2 separate regions of the Homo sapiens genome follow, and region 2 is linked to region 1. The links come from fine-mapping of genetic effects on gene expression. Tissue or cell type: whole blood. Region 1 holds a variant in brackets; the other region holds the start of a gene. All regions are shown on one strand. Distances are between the middles of the regions.

Region 1 (8,107 bases):
TGGCTGATAATGGCATAAAGGATGCATCTCCTCTGACTGCTGCACACAGCCCTTGCAGCTCAAAATCCCAGGCTCCCTTGGTACCTGTCTAGAACTCTTCAGCTAGGATATTTGCTCCTTCTGAGATCAGAAATAAGCATAACAAACAAACCATCGTCCTGTTTGCACAATACCCCGTAAAATGATTAACCTAGTTAAAAAAACAAAACAAAAAACTTCCCCTTTATTTGGCTGAGATACTGAAAACAAGGTTGAAGTTGCTATAAAAGGATTTGGAAAGCTTTGAGATTGATGAGAGTTACTTTAACACCATTCTACCTTCCCTCCACAATGAATAAAAGGTGACAGTTTGAGACCAGCCTGGGCAACGAGACCCCATCACTACAAAAAAAAAATATATATATATATTGGCAGGGCGTGGTCGTGCATGTCTGTAGTCCTACCTACCTACCTACGCAGGAGGCTGAGGCAGGAGCGTTGCTTGAGCCTAGGAGTGGTTACCGTGAGCTATGATCACACCAATGCACTCCAGCCTGGGCAGCAGCGCAAGATTCTGTCTCTAAAATAAATAAATACATAAATAAATAAAATGTGACAGAGACAGAAAGCATCTCAGGGAGGCCATAGCTGAAAAAGATAAATCTCTAATGTTGGGGAAGAGATTCTGGGGGTGAGGGGCTTTCAATCACCACTTATTTTTTCTGGAAGACTTTGGTTTGCTCTAGGAAGCTTTTTCTTTTCTTTTTCTTTTTTCTTTTTTTTTTCTTTTTTTTCTTTAGACAGAGTCTCGCTCTGTCACCCAAGCTGGAGTGCAGTGGCCCCATCTTGGCTCACTGCAACCTCCGCCTCCCCGGTTTAAGCAATTCTCTGTCTCAGCCTCCTGAGTAGCTGTGATTACAGGTGCCTGCCACCACACCTGGCTAATTTTTATATTTTTACTAGAGATGGGGTTTCGCCATCTTGGCCAGGCTGGTCTTGAACTCCTGACCTCGTGATCCACCCTCCTTGGCCTCCCAAAGTGCTGGGATTACAGGCGTGAGCCACTGCGCCCGGCACTAGGAAGCTTTTTCTACATCATGAAATGGATCTACAGAATAAGAAATGGGCCCCACTGAGATTTACCAACTCCAAGTCACCTTCTTTAGGAGTTTGGTCTTCAGTAGTAAGTCAATAGCTACACTTTCCCTTCTCCAACAAACCCATTAAAGAAGCTGCACAGAGACACAAAAGTTTTGCTCTTCTCAGAATTTACATTAAATTAGATGCATAGGGAACCACTGGCCTTTCTTCATTCTGTATAAGGAAGTCAAGAGCTCAAAACAGTTTATGGAACAGTTTACCTGTTTAATTCTGATGTCTTATGAAAGTCTGCTATTCCATGTCCACAGAGATCTGGCATTTAGCACAGACTACATTGCATTACCTTTCCAATGCATCCCCTATTTGCCCCAGATAGAGATTACAGTATACTGCACAGAGCACTCCACATTTATTTCTTGATGATAATGACAGGCAGCAGAACACTGCCCTAGGAGCAAGGAGACCTGGGTTCCAGTTTCAGCTCTACTACCAACATGCTGTGTAACCTTGAGCAAATCGCTTCCCTGATATAGAATCAATTTTCTCACCTGTAAAATGAGGAAGAAGATATCTAAGGGCTTCTCCAGCTCTGCCATTCTGTGAGTCTTAATATAAAGGCTTCATTCAATGTAAATTAGACCTATCACATCAGCAACCCCTAAGCCAGTGGTTCCTAAGTTCCAGTGGGCACCAGAATCAATTAGAGAAGTAACTTGCTATTTGGAAATGTATCCTATATCTGCAAAATGATGTGTATACAAGGTAATTCAGTATGTCAATTGATTGTATTAGTGGAATAGTGGAAACAACCCATGTGCCCATCAAAAAGTAACTGGTTAAATAAGGTCTGGTACATCCATATAATGGAATGCTATACAGCTGTGAAAACTAGTAAGGAAGTTCTCTATGACAGATACGGAAAGATCTTTAAATTACATTATTTTTTAAAGGTGCAGAATAGTATGTAAAGTATGCTAATTCTTATGGGGAAGAAGTGATATATATATTTATATAATCTATATATTATATATAGATTATAGACTATTATACTAATTATATAGATCATATAGATTATATAATCTATACTCTATATTATGTATATAATAGATTGTATATAATATAAAATATATTTTATAGATCATATGTGTTACAGACTCTATATTATATATAGATGTACTATATATAATCTTCATTTGCTTATATTTGATAAAGAAACTCTGAAAGGATTCATAAGAAATAAATAACAGTTGTTACCTGGATTTTTATGGCAGGTGGGGGTAGGGTAAGGTGGGAACCAGGCAGCTGAGGACAGGAATAGGAGAGAGACTTCCATGCTATACATTTATATTTTTAAAGTGTTGTGCCATGTGAACACATCATCTGTTCAAAAATTAAATTATAAAATAGAATAACAGAATCTACGTGGGAGCTAGTTAAAAATGCAGATGGCTGAGTTTAATGGGTCAGAACTTGGGAATCCAGAAGAATAATAGGTGAAATATACTTTGAGAAACACTGGCCTATACACTTTGCAAAACAGAAAGGATGGCAAAGATGCCTGTAATGTAAGACAGGGCCTTCTCTTTAGCAATTGCTCTACCAAGCATCCCCATGTCACTGTAATTATAAAGCTTCCAAATCCATACGTTACCCTTCTACCTTCCCACATCTCCCAGTGATGTGACCAAGCCTTCTTTGGGAAATCTTGACAGTTCTCGACTGTGGAAAACATGAAGTCTCGAGCACTTCTGTTTGTATGGTATATTAGGCTGTTGTTGCATTGCTATGAAGAAATATCGGAGACTGGCTAATTTATAATGAAAAAATGTTTCATTGGCCCATGGTTTCACAGGCTGTACAGGAAGAATGATGCTGGCATCTGCTCAGCAGTGAAACCACTCTTTGATCTCAACTTTTGGAGGGGGCACCAAATCCAGTGCCTCTCACCAGGCCCCACCTCCAACACTGGGGATTACTATTTGACAAGAGATTTGGTGGGGACGCAGATGCAAACCATATCTTATGGCTATGTAAGCAGCTTTTGTCTTTCACAGGATCAGGCTAGAAGGACCTGCTCACTTGGAGGAATAGAGATTGTTGGGAATGAGAAAAGACCCCCTCCAAAAGTTGAGATCAAAGAGTGGTTTCACTTGCCCTGAACTCCTGCTGCCAACTGGCCTGTGAAGTGGTAGCCTTTGCAGAACCAACCAGAGGAACAGCAGCACTAGCACTGCCCCTGCCCCCTACTTGGGAGACCTGCTTGTGG[G/A]TTTTGAGTCAGGATGTGGGCAATATGCAGGTTTTGTCTGAAACTGGCTTACACTTGTCCTTTGAGCCAATTGGATGTCCTTTAAAAATATTAGGCAATATACACTGCTTATGTGCACTAAGTACTTACAATGTTATCTTATTTTGTCAACCCAACAGGGTAAGTACTACACTGCTATCTCCCTTTTACAGATGTGGCAACTGAAGCATAAGTAGGGTGAGTGGCTAGCCACAGATCCCATAGTTAATAAGCAGGACTCCTTGGTGGCCCAGGATGGCAGTTGGAATTTAAATTCTGGCAGCCTGTTGCTAGGTCATCCCTACTCAAAGGCAAGGCCAAGTCACCCAATAAAAAGTTTCTGCAACTCTATCCCAAGAGCTCAGGGAATCTCCATTGGCTCTACCTCTGACTCACTGTCCTGACTCCTCTTGCTCTCTTCTGCTGTGCCACGTTTTCTTACTAGCTTTGCAGAGCCCAGATTCTCTCCCTTTAGTGTGCCCATTGGAATTGACCCTTCAGTTGGATTGTCTATTGAATTTCATTAGCAACTTCTCCCCTGATCGCTGGCTGTCAGATCACCTTTGAGTTCAAGCTCTGGAGCACCACAGGCAGATCTAACCCCAAGCTCAACCCAGATTCCTAGCCCAGGCCCCCAGTATGGATGTAGTATCCTGGGATCCTACTTATCTTACCAAGAAGAGAATAGACTCTCTTGGTCTCTCTCAGACCTTTAGGTCTCAGCTATCTTGATTCTGTTGACCCTTCACACTCATGTACAAGGTCTCCCAAGCCTTACAAACAAGTTGACTACTTCCAGCATACTACAAAGGAGCCCAGTCAGCAGCAAGGACTCATTATAGCTCAAGATGCTACTTTGGATGGCATTTGCTGATCCTCCTGATTGGCAGCTGGAATACAGCGCAGGCAGTGCAGGGACAGGAAGAAGAATTGTCTAATACAACAACTATAGTTATGGGCTTTTTATTTTTTTTGGAGGGGGATGAACTGGCACCAAACAGACACTATTCCAAGTGCCTTGTTCCACCGTGGGATGCATTGGAAGACAATTAGTTGTGGCAGGGGAGAAGTATAGCGTTTGGCCATGTAAGAGAGTAAAACAAACTTATCTAGCCTCAGAGTGAATTGAAAGCTTTAATGAGAGTGTTAACCAGTCACAGGTAGGGAGATAATAAAAACTTCAGCTCATTTTTGGAGAAAACTTCCTTGGTTCCATTAGCTATGGTGAGATCCTAATGATGCTTTGCTAATTTGTATTTGTTTTAGCATCTCCTTGGCATCAACTAAGTTCTAAAGGCTATGTGGAGTTAGGCCACTTTATCTCCTTTTGCTTCTTTGACCACATCCTTCCCCTTATGAAGCCACTCAGCAGTTCTTTCATTAGCACACCAAAAAACAAAAAACAAAACAAAACAAAACAAAACAAACAAAAAACCAAACCAAAACAAAACAAAACAAAACAAACAAAAAACCAAACCAAACCAAAACAAAACAAAACAAAAACTCAAACTAGGTCTGAGCCATAGTCCATTGATGCTGAGTACATAGCATGGGCTCTGGAGCCCAAATGCCTGGGTTTTGAATCCCAGCTCAGTTACTTACAAACTGTGTGATCTTGGTGAGGATACTGAACCTCTGTTTCCCAGTTTCTTCCTCTCTAACATGGGAATAATAACACCACCTATCTTATTGAGTTGTTGAGTTGTTATGAGGAAAAAATGAATTCATATTTGCAAGGCACTTGGAATAGTGTCTGACAATAGTAAGTGCTAGGTAAATGTTTATTAAATAAATAAGTATGTTCATTCATTAAACAAATCTGTATTGTATATCTATTCGTTAGCCAGGGGTTGGCAAACTTTTTCTGTAGAGAACTACATAGTAAATATGTTTTTAGGCCTTTTGGGCCATATGATCTCTCTTTCAACTACTCAGTTCCACTATTGTAGTGAGAAAGCAGTCATAGACTATATGTAAATGAATTGGTGTGGCTGTATGCCAATACAAATTTATTACAAATATAAGTTAGGCTAGATTTGGCCCACAGGCCATAGGTTGATGACCTCTGTGCTAGGGGATGGGAATACAATAATATGCGAAACAGATCCACTAAAGTGTTCTGTCTAGTATGGGAGCTAGTAAACAAATAATTATATACCTTATTATTGTGAGAAGTATGAGGGCGGGGAGATGGGTCGGGGAGGGTGTAACCTACACTGGAGGATCAGCAAAAGCTCCTCTGGGAAAGTGGCTTCAAACCAAGATAAAAGATGGACATAAACAAGTGAATGGGGGCATGAGGAGGGGCATGTGTGAGGTACACGACATTGACATCACCCTCAAAGAGCAAGGATGTCCCAAATATCCTAAATATCTCATTTTACCTTTCATTTAGTTTAGGGAAAAATCATTGAGATTTTAATCTAATCTGTCTTAGTCTTTCAGCTGCTATAACAAAATACCATAGACCGGGTAGCTTATAAACAACAGAAATTTCTCATAGTTCTGAGGGTTGGAAGTCAAAGAACAAGGCACTGGCCCATTTGGTGTCTGGTGAGGGCCTGCTTTCTGGTTCATTGACAGAAACTTTTCAATGGACCCTCATGTGGTAGAAGAGGCTAGCTAGCTCTCTGGGTCTCTCTGTCTCTCTCTCTCTCTCTCTCACTCTTTTTTTTTTTTTTTTTTTTTTTTGAGACAGAGTCTGGCTCTGTGCCCAAGCTGGGGTATAGTGGCATGTTCTCAGCTCACTGCAACCTCTGCCTCCCGGGCTGAAGCCATCCATCCACCTCAGCCTCCTGAGTAGCTGGGACTACAGGTGCGTGCCACCACCCCCAGCTAATTTTTGAATTTTGTAGAGACGGGGTTTTGTCATGTTGCCCAGGCTGGTCTTGAACTCCTGGGATCAACTGATCCGCCTGCCTTGGCCTCCTAAAGTGCTGAGATTACAGGTATGAGCCACTGCACCCAGTCTGGTGTTCCTTTTGTAAGGACACTGATCCCAATAACCTAATCACCCCAAAGGCCCCACCTCCAAGTACCATCACCTTGGAGGGTAGGATTTAAACATATGAATTTGGGGTTGGAGGGACACAAACATTCAGCCCATAGCACAATCTCTTCCTGAAGCTATTTTTAATCTCAACCTGTAAAATTTCTTGTGAGAATAACAGAATTGTTAAGTGCATAGACTGTTGCCAGATTTCCTGGGTTTGACTCCCAGCTCCACATACAAGTTGTGTAACCTTGGCCAAGTTACTTAACCTCTTTTGCCAAAGCCTTCTCTGTCTGTCAGGTGGGGATGACGGTATTGGTAGTATTCCCCTCAAAGGGTGAATGAGCTATTACATGTAACCTATTTGGAATATTGTCTGCCTCACAGTATTCAACATGTGTTAGCCCTTGCTGTTATTGTGGTTTATATGCCTGGTACTTTGTGTAGGGTACATTAAGTTTTCCTTTTATATCTGCTAGCATTGCCTCCTTCACATTCTGTTAAGGACTGAATCATCTCTTGCGCCTCCTCAAAATTCACAGGTCGAAATTCTACCCCCCAACATGATGGTATTAAGAGACAGGGCCTTTGGGAGGTAATTAGGTCATGAGGGTGAAGTTTTCATGATGGAATTAGTGCCCTTATTAAAAAGACCCCAGAGGCTGGGTGTGGTGGCTCACACCTATAACCCCCTCACTTTGGAAGGCCGAGGAGGGTGGATTGTGAGATCCAGAGTTCGAGACCAGCCTGACCAATATGGTGAAACCCCGTCTCTGACAAAAATACAAAAATTAGCTGGGCGTGGTCGCACACGCCTGTAATCCCAGCTACTCAGGAGGCTGAGGCAGAATTGCTTGAACCCGGGAGGCAGAGGTTGCAATGAGCTGAGATTGCACCATTGCACTCCAGCCTGGGAGACAGAGCGAGACTCCGTCTCAAAACAAGTAAACAAACAAACAAAATAAAACAAAATAAAAAAAATCAGAGAGCTCTGTCACCCTCTTTCCTCCATGTGAGGATGCAAGGAGTTAGAAGTCTGCAACCCAGAAGGGAGCCGTCACCAGAATCCAACCATGATGGCACCCTGATCTCAGGTTTCCAGCATCCAAAACTGTGGGAAATAAATGTTTTGTTGTTTATAAGCTACCCAGTCTAAAACACTTTGTTGTAATAGCCCAAACTGACTAAGACATGCTCTAAGAAGTACCATTTCTCTAGTTCTCTAATTTTAGGACTTAGTTTATAAGTCCTAAAGTTTATTGTACACTTACATTGCAGATTTCGGCTAAAGAATTTACTCTCAATTCCCATTTAATCCTCAGAATCCAAGTCTTAGTATGCCCATTTAAGTTGAGGAAACTGAAGCTCAGAGCAGTAAAGTGACATTCCCAAAATCAAAAAGCTAGAAAGTAGAAGATCCAGGATTCAAACCCTGATTTATTGGACTAAAGAATCCCAAGTCCTTAGCCAATATGCTATGCAGTCTCCCACACATATTGAATCATACATTTGATGGTATCCTCTTCAACTTTTCCCACAGAAAAGAGGCAATCTGTTTAGGATTCCCTAATACAGCAGCCCTTGTCTCCAAGATAGCTCTGGGCCTTCTCTAGCTCATTGCAAAAGTGCAACCTGCATACAGTGTTCTAGGACAGGCAGCACCTAGGGTAAGAATATGTGTTTTGTTAGGGCTGGCACTATGAGTAAGCAGTGTAATCATGATAACGATCTTAGTATTTATTGAGCTCTTC
Region 2 (8,107 bases), 43 kb before region 1:
TTACTGGGAAGACACAGGGAGAAAACAATGAATGGGAACTGGCCACCTGACTTCCACAGAGAAGAAACTAGCTTCCTTTTTTTCCACACAGGAGGTCAAAAGCATTTCAGAATAGCTCTCTGTTGCATACCCATCTACGACTTATGGAGACAAGAATCACATAGACTGTCAAGAGCTAGGAGGGCAACTCTGCCTCATTTCACAAGGTAGGCAAACTGAGGCCCAGGAAGAGTACTTTCTCCAAAGTCATACAATGAATTAATGCTAGCACTAGGTCTCCAGAGTCTTCTGAGAGCCTCTAAAAATCTTGCTTCTAAAAACCATGGTGTTGCCAGTCTTGACGTCATCACATCAGCCGCAGCTCCAGTCAGGCTGAATTTAGTCCTTTGTCGACCTTCTAGATATGTGATTGCCAGAGGCCTCAAGACCACTTTGTAGAAGATGCACCCTTTGACCCTCACCACCTGCCATCCTAAAAAAGCACTCCTGTCCCGACAGCCTCACACAGCATCGGCTGAGATGCGTTGTTTCCTATCATTAACAAAAAGCCCATTCATAAAAAAAGAAAGAAAGAAGACTGGCTCAAATTTACACAGAAGGTCTAGCTGGGACAGCCCTGGACTTCCTGTGAATGGCATCACTTCCCAAGAAGCCCTCTCTTAAAAAATGCTGCCCACTCCAGCCCCGATGCTTACAGCCACCCAATCAAAAACAGCCACTTTATTCCAAAGTTATCCATACCTTCTTACCATATCTGCAAGAAGGGAAGGGGCTGGGGTCATTCACCACATCCAGAAGCCTGCAATCAAATGAGTTCCTAGGAACACAGTGCAAGCAAGTATCCAAGCCATGGGTAGACAGTGTGGTGCTCATCTGCCTGAGTCTTCCCACAGGACTGCCCCACCACCCACTGCCACCCTCACTTTGGGGTTGACAGCTTGCAACCTCAAGGTGGATGAGTTTGCTTTCTAACCCAGGCACTAATTCATCTTCTGGCTGCAAGCAAATGACCTGCCATTCCTAAACCCCTCCAGGCCTGTAAAATGGAGATAATAATCTCAACCTCCTGCCCCAAGCTAGGCTGTCACAAGTCTCCAAAGAATAACCTTCTACAAACATAAAGGCAGTAAAGATGCTAATGACAGGTTTCAAAACTGCCCCTGAATAAAACACACCCGGTTTTCCACAGCCTGAAATCTAAAAAAGACTGATTGCTCTCCCAGTCTCCTCTTCCTCCTCCTCCATGATTTTATAGCTTTAGAACATCTCTCCACACAGGCTGAATACAGACAGTCTCACTCTTGGTCCTCACCCAGATTATTTTTATGTATCTGGCAACTTGCCTTTTCAATCCCATTTGTTTTCCTTAGCACCGCTAATGGGTGGAAGTCGATGAGGTAAAGAAATCAGCTTCCTAAGCACCCTTGGACTATGACCATAGGAGACAGAATGACAGTAATAGGATGGAGAGGTTTGCAAAAAAAGAAATACCCTCTCACCATAGTGATCACCAGCCCAAAGTACACATGTCAGCCTGGGGACCTGCTTCAGAACTCATTTAGTAGGAGCTTGGTGCTGCTCCAATGCCTCAAAATGCAAAGGCAGACCTCACTCTAAGAGCATACACTCCCAAATGAAAGAGTCATTAAGAGAAACCTGTAAAAGTATTTCCCCAAAGTACCACAGTGTAGATGAGAAAGTTTATGCGACCACCTCCAGGAAAGAGTGTCACCAGGCCCCTGGGAAATTAACTACCACAGAAGGCAAGGGAGCTGGGTCATGGTCCACTGATGTGATTCAGAAAGGGCACCTGGCTGGGGCTGGAATTCCTGCTTGTGAAAGCCCAGGGCACGGCAGGGTTGGGCTGGGCTGGAAGGGAGGGGCAGCCAGGGTGAGTGCCAGTCGTTCCTAGGGTTCAGGCACAAGGTTCCTCACCTCCACTGTGGGGCTGACGCACTGTGCAAAGGTGAAAGAAAGCCAAACCTGAAATCGGCACAAAGGCAGCCACTCGTTGGAAAATCATTTTTAAAGGTCCCCCTGCCCGCCGGGATGAGGTGCTGTACACTATGGAGTGTCCTGAGCACATAAATGACTCTTATCACTTAGGATGCCCAGGAAAAAGTCAACAGACTCACATGCATCATGGTGACCAGGTGACAGGGGTTGAGCAGGTAGATGACGGTCTTGGTGGCGAACTTAAAGCCCACCTCCACCCCGAAGGTCAGGCACAGGGCTACTAAGAGCAGATTCTTGCTCAGGCTCTCCTTGCCTTCCTCTGGCCGCTGGGTCACCTGCTCTGGCTGGCTGCCAGGGCTACCCCTACCGTCCTCCTTCGTCTGCCTCAGGATGTGCCGCAGGGCCACCAGGATCTCCAACAGAGCCAGGGTCAGGACCACCACACTTTCCAGCAGCCGCTGCTGCCAAGAGAGGAAGGCAGCACAGTCGGGGCCCCCATTGCCTGCAAAACTGGGGTCCACGCCCCCATAGAGCCAGTCCAGGAGACTCTGGTAGCTATACCGGGACATGATGCAGTGGTTCCCCTTGACCACAGTACAGGAAGCAAGAGTGAGATGGAACACAAGCCCAGAGGGTTGCCCGGGTGGTGGACCATGTAAGGCGGGCACACCCCCACAACCCCCCTCCAGACACCAGGGCACCGAGAGTAGGGGAGGGGAAGCTACACGCAAGGCCCGGGGTAAAGTGCTGGCTCTAACTTGTCCCCACGGCTGTCTGGGGGAGCCCCCCGCGCTTCTCCAGTGGCCACCAACGAGGCAGGGTTGAAAGGAGCCGTTGGCCAATCTAAAAGGAAGGAGAGGAAAAAAAAAAAAAAGAGGTCTCAAAGAGGCAATTGCACCGGGAATTAGGAAGCGGGAGGGGTAACTAGCGAGGGAAGAAAACGGGAACGGGGCAGTGGCGAAGCAAGCAGGGGTCAGGGGAAGCCGGAGGCCGAAAGGGTCAGGGCGGGGGCCAAGGAGACCCGGCAGTGCTGCGGCAGCGAACCGGGAGCCAAAAGGGGTCAGAGCTAGGGGACACGCGGAGGCAAGGAGAGGAGCTAGCGGGGCCGAGCAGGCGGGGAGGGCGACGGGGATGGCAGGGACGCCGGACTCCTCGTCTCACGCACTCGCCACAGAGGGATCTCTTACTCCTGCAACCGCGTGGCCGTCTCTGCCCCCAGCTAGCAACTTCGCCGCCGACGGGCCCCTCCAGCCAATTTAGAGCCGTCCTTGTCCAGCCTCCCGCCCCCGGGTACACCCCCGAACCCCCAGCTCCACCCTCCGGCCCTAGACGCCCGCCCTCCGGGCAGCACCACCCCCAGCCCGCGGCCCGCCCGGGACCTGCCCCCCTCGCGCAGGCAGCGGAGGGAGGAAGCCAGAGGGAAGGCGGGAGGCCGGGCCAGCCGGGGGCTGGACTAAAGCCGGCCCCTGGACTAAAGCCGGCCCCCCTCCCTCCTCCCCGGCGCCGCAACCTCCCGCGCCTCCCGCCCAGCCCCGGGGACCGGCCGCCGCGCCCCTCGGGGCTTCACTCACCGGCAGCTCGGCCCGCGGCCCCGGATCGGGCTACTGCTCCGCTCCCGCGCTCTCCGCGCCGGGCGCTCGGTTCCCCTGGCGGCCGCCGCCGCGGCGCACGGCTCCTCCTCCCCGTCTTCCTCCCCCTGCAGCAGCCGCGCTCGCTTCCTCCTTCTTCCCCTCCCTCTCTCCTCCCCCTCCCCGCTGCCACCGCCACTGCCTCCCTCCTCCCGTCCAGTTCAGCTCTCGCCCCACCACACGCCCTCGGGCCACGACTACTCCTCCTCGCCTCCTTCCCTTTTCTGCCTCTGGCACTCCCCTCACCCGTCCACCATTCACACCTCCCACCCTCCGCGGCTTCGGCTCTCCCTCCTCCTCCTCCCTCCTCCTCCCTCCTCCGGCTCAGGCTCCGCCTCCTTCCGCCTCCTCCCTGGCCTGCCTCGTCTTCTGCACTCGGAGCCTGCACGCGTGCACAGCCACCCTCCTTCACAACCGTGTACAGAATTCGCCCCCTCGGTGAAGCCCTGTTGACTGGCTCCGCCTCCCGCGACCTGGTTCTCCAGGGCACTTCTTTCTATACTGCACACATAGTAGGCACTTAGCTGGCCCGCACTAACTTCTTGTGGGGGAATAAGCCTTTCTAGTAATGAGCAGCTTGGCTTCGGGGTGTGTGCTGGGTATGGCCGGCTCCTCTTCGCGATTCCTCCTTTCTGCCACGACTCATGCAAGGCCAGAAAGGCATCTTCTCTCCCCTTTCTAGCCACAGCCCCACTCCACACTTCAGTGCCTAGGACAGGAGCTTCATTTCCCTGCTCCTCCCCCTCCTGCTCTGATCCACTATTTTCTCTCTACCTCTTGCCACACAGACCACCCCTGCCACACCCTCTCCCTCTCCCACTTCTCTCCTTTCTCCTGACAGGCCTTCAATGGTAGGCCAGTGGGAGGAAGGGAGGCTTCCCGTGACCTCTTTCCCTCCCCCTCTTCCCCCCTTCCCCCTCCCCAGAGCAGTTGCTTCCTAACCTATGCGTGGAAAAGCCAGCCAGGACTATATGAGTGTGGAGGAGCAGCACTAAGCCCAAAACCTGGATAAGGGCAACTGACGGAAATAAAATCCCCTCTTCCTACCTGCTGCTTTTTACCGATCGGCTATTTGCTTTTCTTGAGACAAGGGTCAGTAAAAGGACCTTCTCAGGACCTTCCTCATGTTTATTTAATATTTATTGAAGACTCACGATGAGTTAGAAGAATATCCAGAAAAACACAGTTAGGCACCTTGCCTAGGAAACACTTTTGGATGTTGGCTGCAAGCCAGGCTCAAAACATAAAATGCAATCTACTGTATTATCAGGCCATCGCCCTCCCGTTTTTTCCAAGTCTGGTTTTCCGAACAAGTACAGCCAGGTAGCCTTGTCTGACTCCAAGTTTTGTACAACATCTACCATAGGCCTGATGTTCTCCAAGTGTCAGAGGCGTTAGAACCAGAGCGACTCCATCTTGAACAGGGCCTGGATAAAATGACGCTGAGACCTACTGAGCTGCATTCCCAAAAAGTTAGGCATTCCAAGTCACGGGATGAGATAGGAGGTCGGCACAAGATTATAGGTCACAAAGACCTTGCTGATAAAACAGGATGCAGTAAAGAAGCCGGCCAAACCCCACTAAAACCAAAAAGGTGATGACAGTTACCTCTGGTCGTCCCCACTGCTCATTATATGCAAATTATAACGCATTAGCATGCTAAAAGTCACTCCCACCAGCGTCCAGAAGTTACCCTATATGGTCTGAAAGGGGGAGGAACCCTCAGTTCTGAGAATTGCCCACCCCTTTCCCAGAAAACTCATGAATAATCCACCCCTTGTTTAGCATATAATCAAGAAATAACCATAAGAATTATCAGTTGAGCAGCCCAAGCTGCTACTCTGCCTATGGAGTAGCCATTCTTTATTCCTTTACTTTCTTAATAGACTTGCTTTGACTTTACTCCAAATTCTTTCTTGCCCCGAATTCTTGCTAGAGGTCCAAGAACCCTCTCTTGGGGTCTGCATCCAGACCACTTTCCAGTAATACAAGTGCCAATTAATAAACAACAACAAACAAGGCTTGATTCAGAGGCTCACTAGTTCATTCTCCTTAAGTGTTTTGTTAAATCCTCAGCAACATAACCAAGGAACATTAAGGACAAAGCTGGGGAGCACCTAGCAATGGAATACAGCATCCCAAAACCTCAAGTTGCTATCTTCAAGGAAGCAAGAATTAGGATATAGCACTTAGCCAATGGCTTCAGTAATCCCTCCAATTTCCATGCTGAGCTTCTGTTGAGAATTTGGCCTAGACTGTCCCGAGTTTGCAACAATGACTATGGTTAATAATGACTGTAGCCAGGCCAGTTTTCTAAATTGAGCCATAAATTCCTTTTTCACAGGCATGTTGAAGAAAAAAGCCAAACTCTGTAAAATATTTGAGATTTATTCTGCACCAAATGTGAGGACCATGACATGTGACACAGCCTCAGAAGGTCCTGAGATCCTGTGCCCGAGGTGGTCGGATTACAGCTTGGTTTTATACATTTTAGAGAGACAGGAGTTACAGGCAAAGATATAAATCAATACATGTAAGGTATACATTGGTCTCAGCCTGGAAAGGCGGGACATCTCAGGTGGTTGGGGGAAGCTCACAGTCATAGGTGGATTCAAAGACTTCTGACTAGCAACTGGTCGAAAAAGTTAAGCTTTATTTAAAGTAAAGAGTTGAAGTCAGCAGAAAGAAATGCTTAAGATAACGGGTATTGTGGAAGCCAAGATTCTTGCTATGTAGATGAAGCCTACAGGTAGCAACCTTCAGAGAGAATAGATGTAAAATCTCTTATTGGACCTTAAAACGTGTCCGACTCTTAGTTAAATCTCTCCTGGATCATGAAAGGACCTGGAAAGGGAAGGAGATTCTCTATAGAATGTAGATTTTCTCCACAAGAGATAGCTTTGCAAGGCCATTTCAACATATGTCAAAGAAATGTATTTTGGGGTAAAATACTTTGATTTCCTTCAGGGCCTGCTTTCTGTCATGTGGTGCTATACCAGGGTCAGGTTAGAATTTGGTATTTTATTGTCACGAAGAGTCTGTTTTGTCAGTCTTATGATCTCTATTTTAATGTGAATGCTGATCAATTGTGCATAAACTCCAAAGAGAGGGGGTATAATGAAGAATGTCCTTGAGGTTTTTTGAACATGGGAAATTTTGTGATGGTTTCTGTCAAGGTTTCTAATGATTTTTTATTGTGGTAAAATATAAAATTTGTTGTTTTAACTATTTTTTTCTTTTCTTTTTTTTGAAATGGAGTCTCGCTCTATTGCTCAGGCTGAAGTGCAGTGGTGCCATCTTGGCTCACTGCAACCTCTGCCTCCTGGGTACAAGCAATTCTCCTGTCTCAGCCTCCCAAGTAGCTGGGATTACAGGCATGCACCATGTCCAGCTAGTTTTTGAATTTTCAGTAGAAACAGTGTTTCACCATGTTGGCCAGGCTGATCTCCAACTCCTGGCCTGAAGTGATCCACCCACCTCGTCCTCCCAAAGTGCTGGGATTACAAGCGTGAACCACTGCGCCTAGTTGTTTTAACGATTTTTAATTGTACAATTTAATGACTTTAATCACATTCACAATGTGCAACCATCACTACTCTATTTCTGAAAGTTTTCATCACCCCAAATAGAATTCCTATACCCATTAAGCAAAAAAAAAAAAAAAAAAAAAAGTCCAACCTCCATGAGACAGAGTCTCACTCTATCCCCTAGACAGGAGTGCAGTGGTGCAATCTCGGCTTACTGCAACCTCCGCCTCCGAGGTTCAAGTGATTCTCCTGCCTCAGCCTCCCGAGTAGGTGGGACTACTGGCATGTGCCACCATGCCTTGCTAATTTTTGTATTTTTAGTAGAGACTGGGTTCCACCATTTTGGCCAGGCTGGTCTTGAACTCCTGACCTCAGGTAATCTGCCCTCCTCAGCCTCCCAAACTGCTGGGATTATAGGCATGAGCCACCGCATCTGGCCAGCCTGAGCTAGTTTTTCAAGTTTTCTTTCCAGGTCCTCTTAGCCAAGGTAGGGGGTGTGTGTTGGGGGGTGTGTCTGTTCAGTCATTTAGGGGGCTTAAAATTTTATTCTGGGTTTACAAGTAGAATAACAAAGTGTTTTTAGGATATGGATTCGAATCTAACCCCATTTATATTATTTACTTGCTGTGTCACCTTGGACAATTTACTCTCAACCTCCCTGTGCCTCAATTGCCTCATCTATTAATTGAAAGATACTATTATCAAATTGATGAGGTTATGCACAGTCAAATGAGCTGAATGTTGGGGACCATAAGGTGGTGTCTGGTGCATAGAGAGTGTTCACTAAGTGCTCCCTATTATTACCCATCCCTGCATTTGCATGTGTACACACACCCAAGCACGTGCACGCACACACAACCTCAAATTCAGCGCCCTCCCCCACATTTGCATAAACAATCCTACCATCCTTCAAAGCCCACGTAAAATTTCACTCCCCCCAATCCCCCTCCCTCAGCTCCTGGAGCTCTCTTCCTCCTCTGAACTTGTACAGCATTT

Alleles and levels. Positions count from the first base shown, and alleles are read on the strand shown. Sizes are in standard deviations (SD) of each study's normalised expression.
For the expression in whole blood of the gene that starts at base 3,186 in region 2, G is the high allele of the variant in region 1 and A is the other (small effect, 0.35 SD a copy in GTEx).

What was found. PIP is the estimated chance that this variant, and not a neighbour inherited with it, causes the effect.
Region 2: it holds the start of TMEM164, and the variant in region 1 is fine-mapped to the expression of TMEM164 in whole blood (TOPMed, PIP above 0.99).

The regions. Positions count from the first base shown.
Region 1 is chrX:109,955,041-109,963,147 of GRCh38, reverse strand. No RefSeq gene overlaps it. Among named protein-coding and RNA genes, the nearest start is that of TMEM164, 44 kb to the left of the region's middle. The variant G/A (reference allele first, on the strand shown) is at 3,347.
Region 2 is chrX:109,998,193-110,006,299 of GRCh38, reverse strand. It overlaps TMEM164 (transmembrane protein 164), which reads right to left and starts at 3,186. Exons shown (of 7, transcript NM_032227.4): 1 at 3,122-3,186; 2 at 2,136-2,799. The coding sequence starts at 2,525. RefSeq lists an enhancer at 2,324-2,979 and a silencer at 3,082-3,941.